Linked DNA regions of Homo sapiens: region 1 is linked to region 2. Evidence: fine-mapped expression QTL. A gene starts in region 2. The other region holds a variant in brackets. All regions are shown on one strand. Distances are from middle to middle.

The links.
Region 1: its variant is fine-mapped to the expression of ETV3 in whole blood (INTERVAL, PIP 0.97).

Annotation. Positions count from the first base shown.
Region 1 is chr1:157,175,584-157,184,020 of GRCh38, reverse strand. LOC107985211 (a long non-coding RNA gene) reads right to left here. Exons shown (of 4, transcript XR_007066653.1): 2 at 769-1,161. Among named protein-coding and RNA genes, the nearest start is that of ETV3, 41 kb to the right of the region's middle. RefSeq lists an enhancer at 2,029-2,188. The variant T/G (reference allele first, on the strand shown) is at 3,097.
Region 2 is chr1:157,133,516-157,141,515 of GRCh38, reverse strand. It overlaps ETV3 (ETS variant transcription factor 3), which reads left to right and starts at 3,121. Exons shown (of 5, transcript NM_001145312.3): 1 at 3,121-3,200; 2 at 5,151-5,209; 3 at 5,808-6,045; 4 at 7,289-7,404. The coding sequence starts at 5,164. RefSeq lists an enhancer at 2,057-2,662 and silencers at 2,594-2,963, 3,014-3,349, 3,194-3,383.

The DNA.
Region 1 (8,437 bases), 42 kb before region 2:
CTGAGGCTGGCCCTGGGCTGGGGCTGAGTGAGAGGGGAGGACTTCATTCACAGGGATTCCCAACTGTGGTAGGCAGAACAGTGGCCTCCAAAATGTTTAGGACCAATCCTGGTAACCTGGGAATAAGTTAGCTGCAAGGCAAGGGGAATTAAGTTCCCAGATGGAATTAAGGTTGCTAATCAGCTGACCTTAAAATAGGGAGATGATTCTGAATTCCCAAACACTAACATCAGTGTTCTATTAGGAAATACAGGAAGATGGCCATGAGCCATGGGACGCCAGCAGCCACTAGCAGGTGAAAAACGCAAGAAAATGGCTTCTCCCCGGAGCCCTGAGAAAGAACACAGCCCTGCCACCACCTTCATTTTAGCTCATGGATACTTGTGTCACATCTCTAGCCTACAGCACAGTGAGATAATAAGTTTGTGTTGCCTTCAGCCAATAATTTTTGGTAGTTTGTTACATTAGCGATAAAAAACTACTATACAAATTAATGTTAATCGTATATAGGATGATTAATGTTATTGGAAAAATTGCTATTTTCCTGAATTTCCATTTCCTGTCCCAAAACACTGAAGAGATTTTCTTCCTGCTGTGAATCTCAGCTCTGCTCTGTATCTCTGGGGACCTCATGTGCCTTATTTTAGTGGAGAAAATGGAGTCTGAAGACTGGTGTCTGAATGGAACCCTGCATGGGGCCTATGTGACACTCTAGGGACAAAAAAAGCAGGTAAGCCAGAGGATGGGGGAGGGAGGGGTGTCACTCACCATAGACAGTGAGGTAGAAAACCTGGCCAGATAATTGTCCCCCAGTTAAATGGATCATGGCCATGTACTGCCCACTGTCTTCAGGGGCCAGGTTCTCAATCCTCAGAGACAACACGCTAGGCACATGGACCCTCTGCTTGAACTTTTCCTCAAGGCCGACCCAGGTTGGAGAGTCGGCCCCCCTGTGGACTCACAGCACCTGTGTATGATTTGACAGAGTACCCAAAGTCCATACAACCTCCTCCAGCTCGGCGTCTACATCTACTCTGAGCTTCTCAATCACATTCAACAACACAGAACCTCCTCGGATCCCCTTCAGACAAATGTGAGCTCCAGAATCCTTCACTGCAGGGCCATGTGCTCCAGAAGTGTTGGCTGTTGTGCTGCAGACACCTAGGGCATGGAAACAGGAAACATGAGTATTTCCTCAGCAAGAACAAATGAGAGAACCACAGAACTTTCTATTTTAGTAAAATTTATCCAATATACTCCCTTGATTTTAGGAATAAAGCTAGTACAACAAGTCTGAAGCAATTCTGAGAGCAAGTCCTGGTTCTTGTGGAGTGTAATGTCTAAGTATTTTGTACAATTTTGGTATAAAAATGGACACTAAACATCAGTGTTCTGGCCAGATGTGGTGGCTCAGGCCTGTAATCCCCGCACTTTAAGAGGCTGAGGCAGGTGGATCGCCTGAGGTCAGGAGTTCAAGACCAGGCTGGCCAACATGGTAAAACCGAAACCCTGTCTTTACTAAAAATACAAAAATTAGCCAGGCATGGTGGTGTGCGCCTGTGATCCCAGCTACTCAGCAGGCTGAGGCAGGAGAATCGCTTGAACCCAGGAGGCAGAGGTTGCAGTGAGCCAAGATCATGCCACTGTACTCCAGCATGGGCAACAAGCAAGACTCCATCTCAAAAATAATAATAATAATAATAAAGTGTTCTATTTAATCTGAAGCTCAAAGAAACAGCCATTTTTTCCACCTGGATAAATGTGGGCATTCATTAGACTTGCTGGGAGATAACACTCCAGTCTCCTGTATGGCACTTTCCTAACAGATTTTCAGGAATAATTCTGGCCAAAACAGTGTTTGTCTTACTTCTTGCAGCATTGCCTGGAACCAGTGAAATAGAAATTAGTGTTTTCTGCTGAGCAGACAGAAACTGAAAAGGTCTGGCTGAGGATTGTATTAGTGGCTTCTAAATGCCACAGCTGCAGCAGGCCTTCCTGAGTGAGGGCTGACCCCGAAGACCCCTCTCAGGAGCAGAGGCAGAGAAAGCAGAGGGTCACGTGGAGGGGACTGAGAGAGGAGGAGTCCCTTCCTCCCTTGAGGGCTGAGGAAGTGGCCACAGGGACACCCAGGGCCTTCTCTCTGAAGAAGCCTGAAATAGGCTCACTGGCTGTCAGTGCCCGTCAGGCCACAGGATAGGACAGGACAGGATGGGGAGACAGAGCAGAGACCTTGATAGAGCCACAGGAGTCACCAAATCCCAGAACCTCACTGCTGAGAGGGGACTCAAGGATGATCTGTCCAAGCTCCTGCTTTTATTACAGAGTAGGCACTCTCTATGGGGTAGACCTGTCCTGAGTCACACAGGGCAGAGCCACACCTGGAGCCCAATTTCCTCCCCCAGCCCAGGGCCTCCCCTGCAGGACGCTGCCCATGAGCTCTTCCATCCTCACCTGCCCTCCCCGGAGCTCAGCTGCACTGTCGTCTGAGCCCACCAGGCCCTGAGCAGCTGCCGGGGTCTCCACCCCAACTGCCCTCTCCTGAAAAGGGGAAGCAGCTACTTTCAGTGGCTGAGCAGAGCAGGGACTTCTGGCTAGCAGAGGGTTAAACAGGCAGCCTGGACAGACCCCACTTCCTGGACGAGGGAACTGGGAACCAGAAAGAGAGGAGGCTCAGCCCTCAGGCTGCCAGGGAGGATCTGCCCCAGAAGGTGGATGATGAGCATAGCAGGGAGGAAGATGAAGATTCAGAGAGGGAAGGAAGGCAGCAGGAGCTCTCTGATCTACAGAGATGCTAATCCTGAAGAAGAAAAAACAAGCCAGGGAGCAGGTGGTCATTTACAAGGTGGAGTTAAACATTCATTTAAACTGTATAAAATTTTAAATCCTGTCATCAGCATAAAAGATTGTTCATTTTTATCCAGGCATGGTAGTGCACACCTGTAGTCCTAGCTACTTGGGGGGCTGAGGCTGGAGGATCACTTGAGCCCAGGAGGTCGAGGCTGCAGTGAGCCAAGATCACACCATTGCACTCCAGCCTGGGAGACAAAGTAAGACCCTGTCTCAAAAAAGAAAAAAAAAAAAATATATATATATATA[T/G]ATATAGTCCATTTGTCTGACATAGCTCCCATCACCACACTCACAAACCAACAATTCATGTTTGATGCCCAAACTGCGCTTCTTGGTACCATCTCCATTGTCTCATGTCTCTGTCTGGAGCCCCTAATGCAAAGACCCTTTCTCCTCCAACTCCCTGCTGGCAGACACTGGGTGGGCATTCAGTAAATCTTGTTATTGTTATGGTCAGGGGCTCCCCAGAAGTCAAGGACCACCCTCACCTGCAACTGCCTCTGTCTCTGGGAAATTATATGTGAGCTGAGCCACCCTCAGGCTCCCTCCTTCCCTTCCACACTTCCCCATCCAAACACATGTTCAGGAAGGGTGTTAGAGTTTAAGAATGATGAGGACAAATTCCTCATTTCCACTACATCATCACTGCTTCATCCCCATCTTCCTCCCTGGGTCAAGGGTGAACTGGAACAAGGACTATCCAGAAACCAAAGGAAAAATGCATCCAATTATGGAGCTTCGGGATTCTTGCAAGGACGCAGAGCAATTTCACAATGATGTTCCTTCTGCGGACAGCCTCTGACCAAATTCCACAGCAAGAGGTCTTGTCTCATTCAGTACCACACCACTGGGACAACCAATTTCATTCTTTCCCAGTAATTTCCTGAGAGAATCACTTTCTTTGTCTGGACACGGATCTCCTACCCCTAAAATGAGAAATTCTAAGTCCTTTCCTTCTTTCTCTCCCTCCCTTCCTTCCTTCCATTCTTTCTTTATTTTTCTTTGTATCTTCAGAAATCTTCCAACCCCCATGCCTACAAGGAAAACTCTATACAACTGAACATATTTCCAGGTAAATAACATTGTAGAAGTGGAGAACGCCTACATTTTGCTGACTACAGAAGGTTACCTATGTAAAGAGGACGTAGCCCTATTTCTAAGCCCATTGTTTTTTCAAGACATCCTGTTTTACAAATGCTCTCTAATCTGCTCAATTTCATATAATTCCCTGCAAGTTCAAGTATTGGCTGGAATATTAAAACAAAAAAAATTATAACCATAAAACTTCCACAAAAATTCATCTTTACTATGTCTTATTTTGTCATTAATTTTGACCTAATTTCATTGTATATACAAACATATAATCTTAAATAGAGTCATGAATGTGATATACAGCCTAGACTAGGACAGTCTTTCTTTCAGTTTCCTTTTTTGCTTAATTCCCTGTGTTCTCTGCTTTTTCTCCCTCCATTTTTCCTGCCCAAATTCATGCTCTGTTGTAGCCCATGTTAGCAATCTACTGATTCCTTCCACATTGCCAATATAGTCTTAAAAACATGTGACTGTAAAGATGTAAACCCTTAAATTTTGGAAGCTGCTTTTCCTTTTATAAAGTAAGGATTTCATTGTGTTTCATTTCCTGAACTTGCTGCTAGGATTCCATACCTCATACTTCAAAAAAATTTAAAACTCCTTCCAGGAAACTGAACTATTTCTTTTTGTAAGCCTCCATAATATTCCATGGTACAGATACTCCTCAGTTTGGTCAATCATTCATGAATTGATGGGCACCTCCTCTTTTTTCCAGGGTTTTTCCCTACAACAGTGCTGTGATAAACATGGTTTCACCTGCGGCCTCCAGGACCTGAGCAGCATTTCAGGGTGGAGGGAAAGGCAACTCTCAGGGACAATAAAGGGATCCTCCTGTGGTATTCATTTTAGGCAAAGATAAATGCTGGTTAATATTTTAAATGAAAACTATTTGGCCAGGCGCAGTGGCTCACATCTGTAATCTCAGTACTTTGGGAGGCTGAGGCAGGCGGATCACGAGGTCAGGAGATCGAGACCATCCTGGCCAACATGGTGAAACCCCGTCTCTACTGTAGCTGGGTGTGGTGGCGGGCACCTGTAGTCCCAGTTACTCAGGAGGCTAAGGCAGGAGAATCTCTTGAACCCAGGAGGCAGAGGTTACAGTGAGCCAAGATCACACCACTGCACTCTAGCCTGGTGAGAGAGCGAGACTCCATCTCAAAAAAAAAAAAAAAAAAAAAAAAAAAAAGAAAAGAAAACTATTGCAAATTACACAAACAATTTTAAGATAAACCTGAGACCTCCAAGTGTCCTCTCCTTTGTGATGACCTGTGAGCCCCAAGCCCAGGCAGGGGAGTTCATATTCACTCTCCTTTTTCAACGGAGAAGCCCAGGACAGAGGAGCTTCTTCCAGTTCAGACAGCAGGGTTCTAGTTCTGCCCCTCCTCCACAGGACAGCTGCAAAGACCGTCAGAGCACCTCTGAGTTCCTGGCTGGGAATGTATTGTTCCCACCCTCTCTTCCCCAGGAGACAGGTAGTTTGTCTGTCTTCATCCCTCTTTCCAGGCAGGTAGTTTGTCTGTCTCCATCCCTCTTTCCAGGCAGTATCAGGCCACCCTCCTACTGCAGCAGAAGCGGCCCCACCTCCCTGGTAAAGGTTCCCTCAATACCACCAAGACTGCCCTAGTTCAGGGTTCCCAGCCTCCTCACCACCAAAAGGACTTTTTGTTATTTCTATCCTGGGGCTCCAACCAAATATGCTGCATTTGTAAATCATAACAGAGTGGTTTTCTCTTTTTGTGGCCCAAAGACAGCGGAACCTGAACAGCCCACCCAGTGGTCAGACCCAGCTAGCCCAGCCCCACCCAACTGCCCTCCCTTCCCAGGAACCCTGCACTCACTGAGGAGGAGATTGATGAATCCCAGGAGCCCTGAGTCCCAGCAGAGGGACTGGCCCCAGAGCAGGGCCCCATGGCAGGCTGCCTGCTGCTTGTTCAGCTGCAGAAGAAACATAGGAAGAAACGAAGGCAAGAGGGAAGGACAAGTTTGAGCACAGGAGCCCTTCCCCACTTTAAGGGTGGGGCTAGCAAGTTACTACTGGGGAGACAGCCACCAGTCTAGAGAAAGCCATTCAGCTCTTTCATCCCCTCCCAGTCCCTACAGTACCACACACACTCAATAAGTAATTGCAGAAGAAATGAAAGTACAACCTCACTCTGTGATGTTCCTGGCAGTTTGTTAGACTGTCCCGTCCCTGCGGGCACAGCCAGCTTGGTGTTCCCTCCCACACCCTCCCCTGATGCTTCCCTGGGTTCACAGCTCTGCCCCAGGTGGCCCTGGTGACCAGTGTCAGCCTATGGTCAGGCACAGAAGTCACCCTCTTACAGCAAGGCTGGGCTATGCCACTCCTGAGTTCAGTGGCTTTCCTTTGTCACTGCCTTATTTAGTAAATTAAATTTCTTCTTTTTTATTTTTTTGAGACAGGGTCTCACTTTGTCACCCAGACTGGAGTGCAGCGGTGCAACCTTGTCTCACTGCAGCCTCAACCTCCTGGGCCCATCGATCCTCCCGCCTCAGCCCCGCCAAGTAACTGAGGCACCACCACTCCCAGCTAATTTCTGTAGAGATGGGGTTTTGCCATGTGGCCCAGGCTGGTCTTGAACTCCTGAGCTCAAGCAATCCACCTTTCTTGGCCTTCCAAAGTGCTGGAATCACAGGCATGAGCCACCGTGCCCAGCCAGATTTCTGTTTAGATTTTCCAAAAACTTCAACTGTCAGTTGCCTAAGTAAGAAGCTATGGGCAAAAGAACAAAGTTCTCGTGGATAGTGTAAACTCCCCACATCCCCATTGCAAATCCTGGCATTTACCTTTTGCTGGTGGCCATATGGTTTCTCAGTTCCCACTAGTGCTAGTCACCTTTCTATACACTCAGGGTAAGGACAGACCCCCACAGAAGCTGACAGTCTACAGAAAGCCATTCAGCCATGGCTGGATTGAACCATGACTTCCCCTGTAAGTTCCTCCCAGCCCTGCTCCTGCAGGACAGAGAGCTGCATACTCCCTCTGCCACAGCCTCAGCTGCCTTAAACTCTCCACCTCCTGCTGAGCCTCTTCTCTCCAGACCTAGATACACCACAACATCTGTGAGTTCCCCCTTCCGTTACCCTGGGGGAGCAGTATCATTTTCCTAACCCCAAGGCACCGCCTCCTTTTCCCCACCTGGTCTTCCCCGATGGCTGCACAGGCAGAACACCCCGAAGGCTGGAGCTGCAGGCCTGACCCCATGACCACCTCAAGGTAGGTTTCTGGGTATTAAATCCATTTAATGGATGTGAAACCCAAACCTCAGAGGGCTTATGAACCTGTGAAAGGTCACACAGCTAATCAAGGCACAGGGTCTGGACTCCTGACCACAAGCTCAGGACTCATCGCTGACATCACAGCCACTCTCCCATCCCACTGTGTGTCCCCAAGCACGTCACCTTGAGTGCACTCTGTGCTCTCACCCAGAACTGCTCCACAGATTCCCAGGAGAGAAGATATTCAAGACTGGTTTGATTCTCACTCCCCTACCTGGTAATGGGGAAGTTACTGCAAAAGGCAGTCCACAAGTTCTAGAGTTAGAATATCCTTCCTATGTGGAATCAAAATCTGGGCAGCTCATCTGCGCTCACCCTCAGGATCTCAGCGTGACGGGAACCAAGCCTGGCCGGGCTGCTCCCTCAGAGAACTAATTAGAGGAAGGGTCACTGAGTCACCCAGCCCAGAGGGCATCACAGGCAGGAGGGTGGTCCTGTGTCAGGACTCAGGCTGTGGAAGGAGGCAGACATGAAAGTGACAGCAAAGAGGGGAAGCCTGTCTATGGCCAATGAGATCTGATGCCTCCCTGAGATAGACCCAGAGCTGCAGTGAAGTCAATGACCAAGCACCTTCTTGGATCCACTGGGTTTTTTCTTGGAAACCAGGGCAGAACAGAGCCAAGACAGCAGGTGTGGGTGCAGGTGTGAAGGGTTAGACTGGGACGGAAAGAAAGTGGGGGACTATGAGACAGTAAAGTTGGACATTTTCAGAAGCATAGGGAGGCTTCATTGTGTCAAGCCCTGGCCAGGGATCAAACCAAGCTCAGGCAGATCTCTGAGGGCAAGCTGGCACATTCCCTTTATAAACAGGCTCATCCAACACCCATTATGCCCCTGACCTAGGATGCCTTCCTGTACTGCAGGAGATGAAAAGCTCAAAACTACATTTTTCAGACACATTTCAGCTGAGGTCCCACAGGTCATTTCACATACACAGAACTTTTACTGAGACTGAGTTACATGGGGGTGGAGGCAAGGTGCAGGCCATGTTTTGGGCAAGGAAGGCTGGCAGCAATGGCATGGTCACAACCAGCAGCTCCTGACCTCACTCTGTTGCCCAGGCTGGAGTGCAATGATGCAATCTCAGCTCACTGTAACCTCTGCCACCCGGGTTCAAGCAATTCTCCTGCCTCAGTCTCCCAAGTAGCTGGGATTACAGGTGCCCACCAGCAGGCCCAGCTAATTTTTGTATTTTTAGTAG
Region 2 (8,000 bases):
AGACTTAGTGGAGACTGAGGGAGGAGACAGAAGCTCATCAGCATCAGCCCATCAGCATACATGATAGCAGAGAAGGAAATTATCATCATGAGACATCTCAAATGATGACAGGGAACTGCTCTGGGCAGTGTGAGGACCTACTGACTGTGGCTGTAACCCCTGAGGGCCTGCAATCTAAGACAAACCCACTAGGAAGAACAAATACTTCTGTGACATACAGATGGTAGAATAAGACAGTCATCTACTACAAGAGTAGAGAGGAAAGCATTCACATCATATACATGTCCAGGTTAGTTTAGGGTGTGGAGCATATAAATGAAAATGGGGTCAATAAAGAAGCACAAGCCAGGGAAGAAATGCACACGCTCACACACAACAATCCAGAAAGGGTTTTTCCGAAGAAAAATACTTTTAGAAATTATTTCCTTTCTCTTTTTTTAATTTAAGAAGCAGTGAAATGGCTGTGCTGTGGTGACAGTGGAATTGAGAGCATTAGATTTAGAACAGAAACTTATTCTAGACATATGGAACAATTGTAAAGATGGGCGGGAAGGGGGTAGGAAGGTAATGTCAGTGGACAAAGACAGCTTTGAGCAAGTGGAAATTCAAGAGAGATTACAACCTGTCTTGACTTTTATGCTAAGTGTCTTAAGTGTTTCCACCCCCACGCTTTTCAGAAAGCTCATGCTCTCCCTATTTCAGGAACATGAAAAATCTCCACGTTTTGAAAACCTGTTTGCAGCAGATGGAGAAGGCAGCAGTGCCATGGTGAAGGAAATGGTGGATAGGGGCATTGGGTATGCTGCGCCATTAGTCCCTGGCCATCCTAATGTCCCCAGATCCTACCACCACAAGAGAGGATCCCAGCCACAACTCATTTATTCAGACCCACTAATTATTAGGTAATCTCCAGTTGCCTTCATCAAACCCAAATTCACCTCTAGAGTTTCAGGCCAGTGATTAGACTCTTAATGTAAAAACTTAATGTTGAGTTCTGCTGGAATATAAACATTTCTCAATATATCAATTTAGACTCCAGCCAGGTAGAGAGACTTGTTTATCTCTGTTGATTGTGTTTACTCAAGACATCCTTTGTGACGTTAATTAGAGAAGCAGCAGCAGAGAACCCTAGGAGTCTGGCTTGAGTAAAAATATGCAGAAAGAGTCCCTATACTCTGACTCCTGGCCCTTTGTAGAGCACAGGCTCCTTGGAGTCAACCATGCTGGCTCTAACCATGACCATTTGAGCTATGAGCCAAAGATGAGCAATTTCAGACTTTCAGAAGAAACTACTCATTCCCGATCACCCTGGTTTCTGAGTTGTAACAATTACTAAGATTTGCATGGGTGGTATGAGAAATTGAGGATTCTCATAAGAATGATTCTTATGATTATTATCTTTGCCAACATTTTTCATCTGCCATATTTAAAATATACCATTCTCTGTTCTAACCACTCTACATGTATTAACACATCTAATAACAATCACATCAGTAGATACTGTAGGTATTATGTTCACATAGATGAGGAACTGACACAGAGAAGTTAAGTCACTTAACTAAGGTCACAAAGCTAGTAGATGAAGGCACAAGGACTTAATTTCCGTTTAGCCGAACCCCAATATTTTAAAGGAATGTTCTAGCAAACATCTGATATCTACATGTAAGTTGCCGTTCTAGGTACCATGCACAAGATGCAAAGAATATATAGACAGTTCCTACAAAGAGCTAGTGGACTAGTTGCAGGTATCGGTAACCCTCTCTATGGTGTTTAAGTTCTGCTCCTTATTTTGTTCACCTACAGAGTAGGAAGTTCTAACTAGAAAAGACACAACAATGTTATCTTTTTTAAAAAACAGGTAAGGTAATTTTAGGCCAGAGGGAGCCAATTTACTAATTAATTTATCAAGAGCTACACAGTGACTAGTAGCACATTCAAAACTGGAAGCAATTTTTGTAACAACTAATATCTCCAAGTCCCATGTGGCAGAGACGGTGCAAAGGTCTTACTAGAGCAGAGGTACAAAGTTTTGATCCATTTGATCAAAATTGATCTTCAATTCTCCTTCAATCCCATCTCTCTTCTTCACCTCCCCCACGCTCGTATTTATTCTAAATTCTTTAACCTTTACTGATCCTCACTACTCCCTTTCTTCTGCCTCTGGAGTGAAACTATGCCTGGACACCACTCAGATTTACAGGGGTGGGACTGCAGATAAAGCTGAACTGCTTGAGATTCTTTATCCTTAATGAGCCTCTAAAGGAAGAAAAAATCATGCTTTGGACAGACAAATTGCCCGAGCAGGAACAAAAGGTAAAACCAAAAGGGGACACGCGTTTTAATGACTTAGGGAGAGGACTTGCAAGCTGCTTAGACTGGGACGAATTAAGACTAAATGCAGTGGGGTGGGAACTAGCGGGGAAGCGGTCATGCCCCCCAGTCTTCCCAGGGAGGAAATGCCAAAGCGACGTGCTTCAGAGAAAGCTTTGCGGTTTCTTTCATACGTATATGAAAGGGCCCTTTCTTAAAGGGTAGGGAAATTGCGTCTGAAGTCTGCGGGTCCCGTCTTCCCATTGTGAGGGATCCCCACTCTGGGAGGTCGCAGGGCCCATTTCTGGAGAAAGACGGGCCGCCTCTCTGTTGTGTGGGAGAGACTGTTTCCCGGCGCCTGGGCCTTCCTGTGGGGTCTGCGAGGTCCCCTCCCCCGGGAGGTGGGACCCCGGGGCAGCGCCTCGCCCCGCAAAGTCCGTTCTGCCTCACGGCGCAGGACTGGCGGGGGAAGCGTATAGCAGCTCAGCACCCCCTCGCGCCGCGTCACCCCTCGGCGTCTGGAGGACCCTGGCCCAGCAGCGGACCGGGCCGGCCGCCCGCCACGAGCGTGCGTAACGTGCCCCCGCAGCGTGACGCACGGGCCGTGCCGGGGCGGATGCGCGGGATGCGGGCCGGGAGGAGCGCGCAGGGGGAGGAGTGCGGGCGGAAGTCGGCGTCTGCTGAAAGGAGAAAGGAAAGGGAGACGCTGCTGGGTGCGGCGAGGTGAGGCTGGGAACCGGCGGGAGGGCGCCTCCTCCTCCCCCGCCCTCTCTGCTGAGGATGGAAGTGACGAAAGCAGCCGAGGAGGTCACTTCCTGCTGGGGTGGATGAGGAGGAGCCGGAGACGCCGCGGAGGAGACCGGACCGAAGACGGACCGTGCCGGGAAGAGGTGAGTCCCGGCCTCGCCTCGGCCGCCGGGGTGTCTGGGTTGGATCCGGGACCCTGGCGGGGACGGCGTCCCTGGAATCGGGGCCGGCCGCCAGGCCGCGTACCCACCCAGCTGGGCCTCACCCAGTGCGGGGGGCGGGGGAGGGTGGGATCCCGTGTCTGTCTGAGGGGCGACAGGGACCCAGGGCAGCGTTCATGCGGTGGCCCCGCGCAGCCCTGAGGCCACGGTTAAGGGAAGCCCGGCCCGGGAGGTGAATGGCAAGGAGGTTCTGGGGGCTGTGGAAGCCAGGACCCGGAGCTGCTGCGGGAAACCCGCAGCGCCAGACTGTGCATGCCTCACTCTTCGGGGAGTGGTCGCGATCAGAGGAAGGGCAGGGGTCCTGTGGTTTGCAGAGTTGAGACGAGTGGCCCTACTTGGATGGAAGTGTCCTTGCAGTGAATATGCGAAAGGCGTGCAGAGGCGCCCCAGGGCTCCTGGGAAAGGGACTTTTATGGGGAAAATTGGAGAGCTGGAGTGTCAAGAGAGGGTTTCCTTGTCAGGTTATCGTTGCAACGGGATTTGGACCCCAGGGTCGTGATGGTTGGAGGGAGTTCTGTGGCAGGGTAAAAGGCCTCGCGATCTGACAGCGCATCCTAGGAGTTAAGAGTCCAGGGCAGCTTCCTGGAGCAGTGGGGAAATTCGTGTTTTTCCTCCCTCATTGTCACTAAGGTGGAAGAGGAAGCTCCTGCCTCAGCCCCGGTGCCTCGTTATTATGTATCTCGTGTGTGTGTGAGAGTGTGTGTGTGTGTGTGTGTGTGTGTGTGTGTTTTTCCTTGTCTGCTCCTTCCTTTGGGGTGTTTATCTTGTCCTCGGCCGCTAGTAGTTTTGTAGACTGACACTTGCTGGTCTCCTTAATGTGTTTGGTGAGAAAAAATATTCAAAAGATCTAGAGAAATCCTAGGTTAGGTGAAATTTCCAAGATAAGGAATTTGTCCCTACGCGGGGGCCACTTAGGCATTCTCTCCAGATGCCTGCTAATGTGGATGCTGAGGGCCTGTCATCCACCCTGGGGAACAGCGAGGGTAGATCTGCCCTCCCTCCATGTCCCTCTGGCAGTTTCACCCCTCCCTCCTTTTTGCTAAGTGATTAACACAAAGCTCCTTGCTGGGAGGAACAGGAAATTTATTGAGGAACTGTAAATCTGGATGGAATGAATTCAAATCGCAGCAAGACTCCTTCCACTCACTGGCCAGAAGGGCTTCAGAAATGCCTGCTTTTCACCCCTTCCTGTTAAATGGAGAAAATGTATAATTTTTCTCAAAAAATTTTTGAGAGTTTGTGTGTGTTTTTTGAATAGAGTAAATGTACATATGGTGTGTTTACTTCCTGTATCCCAGGGTATTTTTCAAGGGGGAGGGAGCAGTTTGTGGCTGGGAAGAATCTTCCTTCTATCTCACATAATTCAGTAAAATAAATCAAAATCAGATGTTCATTCTTGAGTGGGAATCAGATGGATTTGGGATTTTTTCATCCTTTAAACTGGTACATCTTGGTGAACTCAGGCTTGTGTATCTTGGCATGTGGGCTTGTCTAGTAATAGAAGACAAACTGTTTGACTTGTTTTGGCTGCGTTTTTGGACCCATTTCACTGTACCTTCCTTTTTTATTTTTATTTTTTTACATTTGAAGGGTTGGTCAGGAGGAGGAAAACAAATATTAAAGACAGTGTTTACACTTTGTGGTTTAAAGTCAGGTGAGAGATAATTATGGCTTTTGAAGCTGATGACCTGAGGCCCATCATTTGATAACTTGGGGAGTAGCAGTTTGGAGGTGACATGTTTGAAAGAAAGAGAGTTGCATACGGAAAGAAGAACAGGGGAAAGGAAGTTTGGGGAGAGACTGCCAGAAAACTTTTGAGAGGATACTAAATAAATAGCATCTTAAAGTAATTGTGTGGCTTGTGTCTCTCAGCAGGCGGGTGAAAATGAAAGCCGGCTGTAGCATCGTGGAAAAGCCAGAAGGAGGTGGAGGTGAGCAGAAGTTAATCATCTCTGATGTACCTGGAAGCTTCCCTCAGTGGTTCCTGTCCTCTCCACTTGAGCTCTGTTCACAAATGTCAGACCATGACTGACACTCTCTTGGCTAGGTGGATACTGGCAGGACAGTTGTAGGCTTGTTTCCTATGGATGTATATTTAACATGTCTGGTCACCACACCCATATCCTAAGCTTTAGAGTCTCTTTGCTGTCAGAGACACAGTTCCAACCTTAGGGAAAAGGAGTTTTCAGCTGTATTTTCCTGAAACATTAGTTTATCTTTCCTGTTTGTTCCCTTTAGCACTTTTATGTCCTCACAGAAAGTAGGTGTATTTAGTAATGTATGAAAAGGTCAGCTTAGGACATCTGGTTGCTGCTGCCCAACTCTTATCAGATTTAATGATTGCCACAAGGATAGGTGACTTCTCTGTGCTTTCCTCTCCCCATTGTGGTTAGGCCCAGCTGACTGAGAGTACTTACAGCATGTTTGCAAAGCACTCTAGATTCTGAGCAGTGGAATGTGCAGTTGGGGTTGCTGGTATGTATGTACCTACCTCTTAACTAGCTTAATCTTGACCTTCTCACATGAAAGGGTATCAGTTTCCTGACTGGGCCTACAAAACAGAGTCATCCCCAGGCTCCCGGCAGATCCAGCTGTGGCACTTCATCCTGGAGCTGCTGCAGAAGGAAGAGTTCCGCCATGTCATCGCCTGGCAGCAGGGAGAGTACGGGGAATTTGTCATCAAGGATCCAGATGAGGTGGCCCGCCTCTGGGGCCGCAGGAAATGCAAACCACAGATGAATTATGACAAGCTGAGCCGGGCCCTCAGGTAAGGAAAAGGATTCCCAAATCTGTGTTAACAGATTGGAAGGAGACTAAGCTGTTTGGTGAATGCTAGATAAAAAGGGTATCAGGTAATAAAAGACTACACTATCTTAGTGAATAATGTGTCACTTTAAAGTGGGAGTAGAAGAGCTGTTGAATGTGAGTAGCATAGGCACAGGAGGAGAAAAGGCATATCTTTGGTTATACGTAGGAGGGGATTCCAATGTGGCTGGCACTGGATCCTGACAGACAGCTGATTCTGCTCTGTAGTGGGCGAGAGTATATGGTGAAACATGGATTGGAGTTCATTTATAATCCAAAGGATTAGTTTAGACTTCTCTATTAGAATCTGTTAGAATTTCTTTCTTTGGGCTTCCCTGAAAGAAACTTAGAAAAGGATGAAGCAAGTCACGGGAGGAAGATTCAGTGATACTGACCTATCTATTCCGGAACTGTGTCTGTGAGCTCAGGTTGTCCATAGCCTGCTGCAATATGTCTAAAGATTGATCACTATAAGTTTTCTCAGGTTCTTTTTTCCCCTTGTCGGTCTTACATTTCATAGTCCTTTAGCCCTCAAGGGGCTAGAAGGCAGTTTATGACCTCTGCTACTGCATAGATGTAAGACTAAAGGTTCCAGATAATTGAAGTTCTCCTGACCTGAAATGTAAACTCTGTACAGTGGCTTTGCTGTATTCTTTCACATCCCTTTGAGTCTTTGAAGGTGAGGCGGGCCACACTAGCTGCTGTTTTCCAGATCAGGGCATGCCATTGTTTGACCTGCCACCATAAAACAGTTGTACATTCCTTTGTCTGTCTTTTGAGCTTAGGCCTCCAGACTAACCACATCAGGTCTCCCTAGTGATTTGTCTGCCCCCACCTGGGCAAGACCAAAAAGAAAAACTAAGCAGTTAGTGACATGCAGTGCAACCGGACGGAAATGGACTGTAGAATCGAAATTGTAGAGAGATGGAGAAGAAAATGTTTGGGGCTAGGATAAGTGTTCAGAATCTTAAAGTGAAGTTGTCTTTGTAAACCTCTAGGCAAAAACGAGCTGAGTTGAAAATTGAGTAAGAAAATTAAGCTGTTAGGTCTCCTAGATCTACCTGGAGGGCCAGGCTGCGAAAGATTGGTAGTGATTTTTGTAAGTAATACTCAGAGCAAGAATTGTTGGTCTCAGTGGCTACCTAAGTGTATTGAAAGCTGTCAGTAGCTACAAGACGAATGGACATGTATTCCTGTTTTTACAGATACTATTACAACAAGAGGATCCTTCATAAAACAAAAGGGAAAAGATTTACCTATAAATTTAACTTCAACAAGCTGGTGATGCCCAACTACCCATTCATCAACATTCGGTCAAGTGGTAAGATACAAACTCTTTTGGTAGGGAATTAATTTTGAATTGAAAAGAATTTTTAAAAATCCAAATCTAAGACATGGCATGTTTAGGAAGATTTTAGAAACACTAAAATAATGTGATCCTTTGGATTGCCTCAATGTTCTTACTCAAGTCATCTCACTTATAAGGAGAGTTATAGGCTATTCAGTATCAAGATAGATTTCTTTGGTTTATTTGGTTGGTTCCCTTTTCTGCATATTGTTTGTAATCTCCTAGATACTATTACGCTATCTTGTTTGGGAATGATGTTTCATAGGTTTGTGATGATCTTTACGTTCAGGACTCAGTTTTAACACCCAGCCCAGTGGTTCTTTCATAGATGGGAACCTGTTTCTACAAACACTTCCGATTTTCTGTGAAACTACCAAGCTCTCCCTTATCAAGTGAATATCATCAAAACCACAGCATCCTTGATCAGAGAAGGGGGAGGTTCACATGTTTGCAGTGAAAAGCAGTGTCTTTGATCTGCAACAGCAAATCCTCAGAGAAAAAGATTCTGGGGTTACTTGACCTTCTCTCCTGTTAAGTGCAGTAGGGCTTCCCCTCTTGACTTTCCTGGT